Linked DNA regions of Homo sapiens: region 1 is linked to region 2. Evidence: fine-mapped expression QTL. A gene starts in region 2. The other region holds a variant in brackets. All regions are shown on one strand. Distances are from middle to middle.

Evidence for each region. PIP is the estimated chance that this variant, and not a neighbour inherited with it, causes the effect.
Region 1: its variant is the best candidate, but not a certain one, in a credible set for the expression of BAIAP2L1 in whole blood (INTERVAL, PIP 0.89).

What each region holds. Positions count from the first base shown.
Region 1 is chr7:98,339,307-98,343,306 of GRCh38, reverse strand. All of the region lies in intron 3 of BAIAP2L1 (BAR/IMD domain containing adaptor protein 2 like 1), which reads left to right. Among named protein-coding and RNA genes, the nearest start is that of BRI3, 60 kb to the right of the region's middle. The variant C/AC (reference allele first, on the strand shown) is at 2,348.
Region 2 is chr7:98,399,043-98,403,042 of GRCh38, reverse strand. BAIAP2L1 (BAR/IMD domain containing adaptor protein 2 like 1) reads left to right here and starts at 1,953. Exons shown (of 14, transcript NM_018842.5): 1 at 1,953-2,241. The coding sequence starts at 2,191. RefSeq lists a silencer at 1,620-2,279.

The DNA.
Region 1 (4,000 bases), 60 kb after region 2:
GCTAGTGTGTGTGTGTGTCTGTGTGTGTGTGTGTGTGTGTGTGTGTGTGTGTGTGTGTATTTTTTTTTTCCAGTAGAGACAGGGTTTCACCATGTTGGCCAGGCTGGTCTCGAACTCCTGACCTCAAGTGTTCCACCCACCTCAGCCTCCCAAAGTGCTAGGATTACAGGCGTGAGCTACTGCGCCTGGCCGCTCCCACTGTTTAATTGTTAAATAATAGGTCATGGGGTCAAATTCATGCCACTCAACAGATTGTCAGTGGGTGTACCTAAAGTCACTCATGTGACTTTATCACGTGTGATAAAGTTAAATCCTTTATCACACGTGATAAAGGTTAATCCTTCATTACCTGTACACAGTTCAGTTCAAGGCAGCACAGCTACCCAGCAGTGCCCATTTAAAAAAGGAATCTGACATTTTCATAAACTTCCAGTTTTGTTCCTAAATCAAGCAAGGTTTATTTTTATAACTCAGAAAATATTGAAAAGGTGAAAGGGAAAACAGAAATGGTAAGGGGAAAATGTTTTGCCAAAATCTTTAGAAGAACCTTTGAGTCAGTTTTTTCATCCTTAAAGCAGAGAAAAATAAAGGATGTTCTCATTGACTTCTCAGGAAATAAGACTTTCTTTGGGGAGTTTATAAATTTGCTTTGAGCTTTTTAGAGCTCACCATTATGTAAATTTAGGCTATGTTATTTTGTTGTAGTTTAGTCAGCCATTGCATTTTGAATCATTTATTGTTTGGGCCAGTTTCTGAAATTGGGCACAAAACAGAATATTTTATCTCCTCACTATCAGGGAACCTAGAAAATCATAGATTTCCTTTAATCATTGATAGAATGCTTATGGATCATGCAATTTTTAAAAACTACATTATAGATTTGTCTTGCTGATACTCAGAATCCAATCTGACAGTCTTTGGTCTAAAAATTAGAGCAGAAGCCAGGAACGGTGGCTCAGCCTGGGTGCAGTGGCTCACACCTGTAATCCTAGCACTTTGGGAGGCCGAGGTGGGTGGACCTGAGGCCAGGAGTTTGAGACCAGCTAGGCCAACATGGCAAAACCCCATCTCTACTAAAAATACAAAAGTTAGCTGGGCATGGTGGCGTACACCTGTAATCCCAGCTACTTGGGAGGCTGAGGCATGAGAATCATTTGAACCTGGGAGGCGGAGGTTGCAGTGAGCCATGATTACACCACTGCACTCCAGCCTGGATGACAGAGCAAGACTCTGTCTTTATAAAAAAAAAAAAAAAAAAAAAAAAATCAGAAAAAAATTTCTGAAACATTTTTGAAATGTTACTAATTCACAACAATATTACAAATATATTCCTAAGATCTGGATAAAAGAATTCATACCACAGTAGGGAAAGAGCTGAGCTGAGCCACAGCAGTTATAATTGACCAAAATCACTTATCTTTTAGTTACAGGTTAGACTCACTTTAAAGAGATTAAAATTCTTCCACAAAAATAGCAAAGAAACAAGAGGAGATTTTATTTACTGAACACTGTACCTGCTATATGCCAGGCACAGTTCTAAGCACATTATAAATGTAATATTAACTCCTATAATCATCATGACAGCACTGTGAGGCCCATGCTTGTTATTTCCGTTTTATAGATGAGGAGACTGAGGTACAAAGGCAGTAACTTGCTGAGGTCGCGTATCTGGTCAGTGGCTGGTTCATTGGACCCCAGGCTACCTACCAGGTATATGACCTAGTCTGCCAACTTAATTTTCTATATGTCCAAAAGATGTGCTTTTTTAAAAAATAAAAAATTTTTTTTAGAGATGGGGGTCTTTCTGTGTTGCCCAGGCTGGTCTCGAACTCCTGGGCTGAAGCAGTCCTCCCACCTCAGCCTCCCAGAGTGCTAAGATTACAGACATGAGCCACTGCACCTGGACTGTGCTTTTCTAACGGCTTTACTTTATGGCTGTCAGATTTTCCTGCCAATTAGAGTTCAGCAAAATAAAGGATTGTGTTAAATTGCAAACCATCATATGGTCCATGCTGACTAACCATGTGAGTATGAGTCTGTATTTTGTTGGATTTTTCTCAGCTGTAATCACAATTTTGCTGGTTTTACTTAGAAGCATTTATAATGCGATCATTATTCCAGCTTTTTTTCTTGAGTATTTTCAGTTTGGGGTTTGGAAAATAATTTTTTTCCTGGAAGCAAGCACATGATAAATGCCTTTAGACCTTGAAGGTGGCTTTTCTCATCTCAATTTTTGGGTGGATGTTCTTTCTTCTCCCTTTTGGAACAGGAAAGGTCTCAGCTAGAATAATTAGAAAGGTAGGGTTATAATTTATAAAACCTGTAAGAGACAAAAAAAAAAAAAAAA[C/AC]CAATTAGCTGGGCCTGGTGGCAGGCACCTGTAATCCCAGCTACTCGGGAGGCTGAGGCAGGAGAATCGCTTGAACCCAGGAGGCGGAGGTGAGCTGAGGTCACACCATTGCTCTCCAGCCTGAGTGACAGAGTGAAACTCTGTCCCCTGCAAAAAAAAAAAAAAACCTGTAAGAGCATGTACTGTGGAAGTCCATGTGTCGTGTAGGCGCATTGGTGTAAGTATGTGTACATTCCTAAAGTTTAGGAAGATGTTCTGTGTTATAAATTGTACTTGTTTACAAAAGTTGTTACAAGAAGAACATTCCTTCTCTCAGCTTTGAAGTGAGTATATATATACTCAATGTACTATAATTAGTAAATATTACTTACATAGCCGGGCGTGGTGGCTCATGCCTGTAATCACAGCACTTTGGGAGGCCGAGGCGGGTGGATCACGAGGCCAGGAGATCGAGACCATCCTGGCTAACACAGTGAAACCCCGTCTCTACTAAATATACAAAAAATTAGCCGGGAGTGGTGGCGGGCGCCTGTAGTCCCAGCTACTCAGGAGGCTGAGGCAAGAGAATGGCGTGAACCCGGGAGGCAGAGCTTGCAGTGAGCCGAGATTGGGCCACTGCATTCCAGCCTGGGCGACAAGGCAAGACTCTGTCTCAAAAAAATAAAGAAATAAATATTACTTATGTAGAAGCTGAATCATTGAATCAGATTAGCCATTTCACACTTCATGCTTCCAGATTGCTCACTGGGCACATCCTAAGTGTCAACCTGAAACGTCATTTCCTGTTTTTCATTGTAACTTTATTATGTTTGCCCGTTCTCTTAAATCTTTGGATTTTTAAGTGTTTGAACAGAAAATTGTTTAAACCCAGTTTTCACAGTTACTCAAATTGGTCTTTTTCTCCTTGAAGTATATTGTGTGTCCTAGTAACTCAAGATGGAGACAGCGTAAGTGTCCCTGTCCTCACGCTGTCAGCCACAGCCAAAGGACCGCTGGCCAAGGAGCTGCAACAACTGGGCCGGATAATTGGCCTGTCATGGCGAGGGGGGGTGGCGCAAAGGACCTGGGGCTGTGCCTCTGCCATCATCACCATCCTTGTTCACAAGCGCTACTTACATCCTCTTACAAATAGGTGTGGATTTCTAACTTTTTCACAGCACCATGCTGGGCCTGCAGTGAAGGGTCAGGAACGAAAACACTAGGTTATGACACCCAAATTGGGGAGTGGGGTTGAGAGCATGCCAAGAAAGAGCTGCTGCGGTCACACGCACAGGTAGCAGCAAAGGGCGTAGCTCCCGTGACAGGCTGAAGAGAGGGATACTCAAAGATGGATGCGGCTAGAATCATGAAGCGAGTGAGGCCTGGCCACGCCAGCCGCATTCCCGGGCACACCATGGTGCCACGGTGGAGGGTAGACAGTTCTGGTGGGGGGTTAGAGTCTTCGTTAGTGCAGGTGGGGTTCTAGAAGTTTTTTGGTCTTTAGCAACTTGGGAGTAAATGCACTTCCCTATGTACTCTTTCCTCTTCCGAGTGACTTAACAAAACTGTTAAAAGTAAGAGTGCCAACAAGCACATGAAAAGATGCGCAACATCATTAGCCATTAGGGAAACACAAATCCAAACCACAAGATAGCTACAGCACACCCAATAGAG
Region 2 (4,000 bases):
TTTTAATTATATTTTTTGCAGAGATGGGGGTGGGCTCCCTATATTGCCTAGGCTGGCCTCGAACTCCTAGACTCAACCAGTCCTCCTGCCTTGGTCTCCCGAAGTGCTCGGATTACAGGCATGAGCCATCCTGCCTGGCCCCCAGATAGAAGCTTTTTGTTTGTTTGTTTTTGAGACAGAGTTTCGCTCTTGTCCCTCAGGCTGGAGTGCAGTGGTGCTATCTCAGCTCACTGCAATCTCTGCCTCCCAGGTTTAAGCAATTCTCCTGCCTCAGCCTCCCGAGTAGCTGAGATTACAGGTGCACGTGCTACCATGCCTGGCTAATTTTTGTATTTTTAGTAGAGACGGGGGCAGGGCGGTTTCACCATGTTGGCTAGGCTGGTCTCGAACTCCTGACCTCAAGTGATCCGCCTGCCTTGGCCTCCCAAAGTGCTAGGATTACAGGCATGAGCCACCAAGCCCAGAGGTTTTAAAAAATCAGAATAAGACCTCTGCCCTTGTTGGGTGCGGGTCTCAGGTAGCTAAATGGTGGTTCTTACTGGGGAGAAGGCTGTCACCCAGCCCAAGGTACATAATCCTGGAAGAGAGGCCCAAAGAAGGCAGCTGCCTCACCCTTGGGCAGGGCTGAGGCCGGGATGGAGACAAAATAGGGAGCCCAGGAGCCACACACCTCCACAGAGTTTGAGTGATGACAAGAAGAGAGGCTTCCCTAACACTTCAGCTCAGGTGGTTTTCTAAACCCTACAACAATCTCGTGAGTAGCATGGTTACACTGCATTGAGTTAAAGGTCGTTGTTAATGTAAAGTTTAAAAATGTACTACTGGGCCGGGCGCGGTGGTTCAAGCCTGTAATCCCAGCACTTTGGGAGGCTGAGCAGGGCGGATCACCTGAGGTTAGGAGCTCGGGACCAACCTGGCCAACATGGTGAAACCCCGTCTCTACTAAAAATACAAAAAAATTAGCCTGGCTTGGTGGCACGTGCACCTGTAATCTCAGCTACTCGAGAGGCTGAGGCAGGAGAATTGCTTAAACCTGGGGGGCAGAGATTGCAGCAAGCTGAGAGAGCACCACTGCACTCCAGCCTGAGGGGACAAGAGTGAAACTCTGTCTCAAAAACAAACAAAAAGCTTCTATCTGGGGGCCAGGCAGGATGGCTCATGCCAGGCAGGAGAATCGCTTGAACCTGGGAAGCGGAGGTTGCAGCAAGCTGAGATCGCACCACTGCACTCCAGCCTAGGCGACAGAGTGAGACTCCATCTCAAAAAAAAAAAAGTACTAACATTTCGGTAACTAGACCCTGGCATTTATTAATTTTTTGATATATCAGGAGCTTTCAAAACTGCAAGTGGCAGCCCGTTTTCTCCACCTAGGAGGGCCGATGCCCCCACGGGTCCCTCTAACTTTTGGGGTCAGTGAGCGGCGGGGCAAGAAGAGATCAATCAGGGAAATCAATACAACTGGGGAATGTGGCCCCTTCCCTTGGTCCCCAAAACGCAGGGCTTGAAGGAAGCCCTCATGGAGGAAGTGGGCCTCGGGGTCCCCGGGGCCAGCACCACGCGAGGCAAACAAGGGCTCCAGGACCACAGTCTAAACACCCCCAGGCTGCCCTTGCCCTAGCAAAACAGCAAAGCGAGCAGCCCACTCCACACCGGTCCCCACTCCAGGGTCTCGGGCCCTACGTCGCCGGAGCTCTGGGAGAGCCGCGAGGGGGCGCACCGTGGCCTCGCTGCCCTGTCCGCCACAGGTGGGGTGACCCCGCCCACTCGGGGGGCCCGCTTCCCTCTGGCCACGCCCATTCCAGCTGCCTGGCCCCGCCTCCTCCCCGCCCACCCCGGCCGGGCCCCGCTCACCAGGCCGCCTCAGGTGGGTACGCCACGCCCCTCCGGCCCTGCGGCCCCGCCCCCGTCTGCCCCGCCCGCCTCAGGTGGGGCCGCCCGGCCCGCCCAGCTTCCTCTGGCGGCGTCCGGCCGCTTCTCCTCTGCTCCTCGAAGAAGGCCAGGGCGGCGCTGCCGCAAGTTTTGACATTTTCGCAGCGGAGACGCGCGCGGGCACTCTCGGGCCGACGGCTGCGGCGGCGGCCGACCCTCCAGAGCCCCTTAGTCGCGCCCCGGCCCTCCCGCTGCCCGGAGTCCGGCGGCCACGAGGCCCAGCCGCGTCCTCCCGCGCTTGCTCGCCCGGCGGCCGCAGCCATGTCCCGGGGGCCCGAGGAGGTGAACCGGCTCACGGAGAGCACCTACCGGGTAAGCCCAGGGCCCGGGGCTCAGGGAGGTCAGGGCTTTCCACCTCGGGGTTCAGAAGGGGACTTTACGCGGGAAGGTACTTTCCCTCCCTCCAGCTCCCCTCCCCCGCGTCCTTCCACCTCTCCCGGTCTCTCCCACTCCTCCCCTGGCCCTCCACAGCCCCTCTTCTTCCTCCCCTGGCCCTCTCCTTCCTCCCAGTCCCTCCCCATCCCCTCCCCCCTACTTTTCCTCCTCCTTCCCTCCCCTCCTCCCTGTGCTTCTTCCCTGTCTCTCTTTCCCGCCCCGCTGTACCTCTCCCTCTGCCCCTCCGCTCCCCGTTCACTCTCCCTCCTCCCCTGCCCCTCGACACTGTCCCTCCCCTCCTCCTGGTTCTTCCTTCTCCCCCGTGTGTCTCCCCCTCCTCCCCTGTCCCTTCTTCTCCCCAGTCTATCCCCCTCCCTCCCCCTCCCCCTCCCCCTCCTCTTGGTTCTTCCTCCTTCCCCGTGTGTCTCCCCCTCCTCTCCTGGCCCTTCTCCGCCTCCCCTGTCCCTTCTCCTCCCCGTCCCTTCTCCTCTTCCCTGACCCTCAGAGCTCTGGAGACCACCCCCCATCCCCTGACCAGCTACACATTTTACAACTAGTGCACTTAAGTTGGGGAGGGGTCTGTTGTGCGTCGGTGGGGCCCACGTCCTCCTCCCAACTTCTTGGAATCAGTGACCCGTGCTGTCCTGGCTGCCGGGCTTAAGCCCTCCGGGACCAAAGACACAAGCTCGAGTTTCCTCTAAGAAAAGAAAGCGCCCAAGAATGTGGGGGTGAAACTCCCCTGTAATTAGGATCGCCAGGTGAGCCGAGCTCTGGGCGTTCTCCCGGGAAACGCCCTCCTCCTTAGACCCTTCCTCTCCCACCTTTCAGTTGAACTTGGCTTTTATATATGGGTTATTTGGTGAGGTTCTTGAAGTCAAAGAACAACCGAGGTTTTAATGAAATTGACCTAACCTTAAGGAATGCGTTGATAGCCGGTCTCTTAACTTGCATGTATTAGGAGAGAATTTTTCCAGACACAGACAGAGACTTAGGATTAGTGGCCTGTTTAGTTTACATACTTACAAATGAATTCCAGGTGAAATAAGATATCTGTTAATCATCTGCTATTAATAGAACACAAAACAACTTTTGTTTTAATTCAGCCTAGGCGCTTCGAACCCTTGAAACTTTAACGTTCTCTAAGTTCATGTATAGGCATGTTTAAGGTTATAAATAAATGGTTGGTCGGTTGGTTGGTTGGTGTGTTTTATCTTTTTTCTGTCCCTGGTGCTTGAATCAGGAAGTTTAGTCATTTTGATAGACTTTTTTAAACCTAAAATTTTAGTTTCTGGGTTTTCAAGGTCTGAATTCCTAAAATCAGAGGAGTCTATTAACTTTTGTTGAATGAAAGTAAGAGAAGAACATGAACATTTTTGTTATGTATTGAAATCCAAGAGATCCGTTCCGTTTATCTTAACACACAAAGTGTATACTGTCACATATAAATTATGCCTTACAGGTAGGGAGAGTAGACACAGTTGACACAGCGTTTTTGATGCTCAGTCACTGTGACCAAAAACTCTTCTATTCGTGTGTTGCCTTCATAGAGGGCGATCTTTAGAAATTTGAGAAATTCGAAATTTGAGAAATTCCTACATTTGTATTGAGATTGCTACTATTTAAATGACCCGGAAGACGTTGCTGCATGAGGTGTGGGGTACTGACCAAGTGTGTAAATAAAACGTTCTTTCTGCCA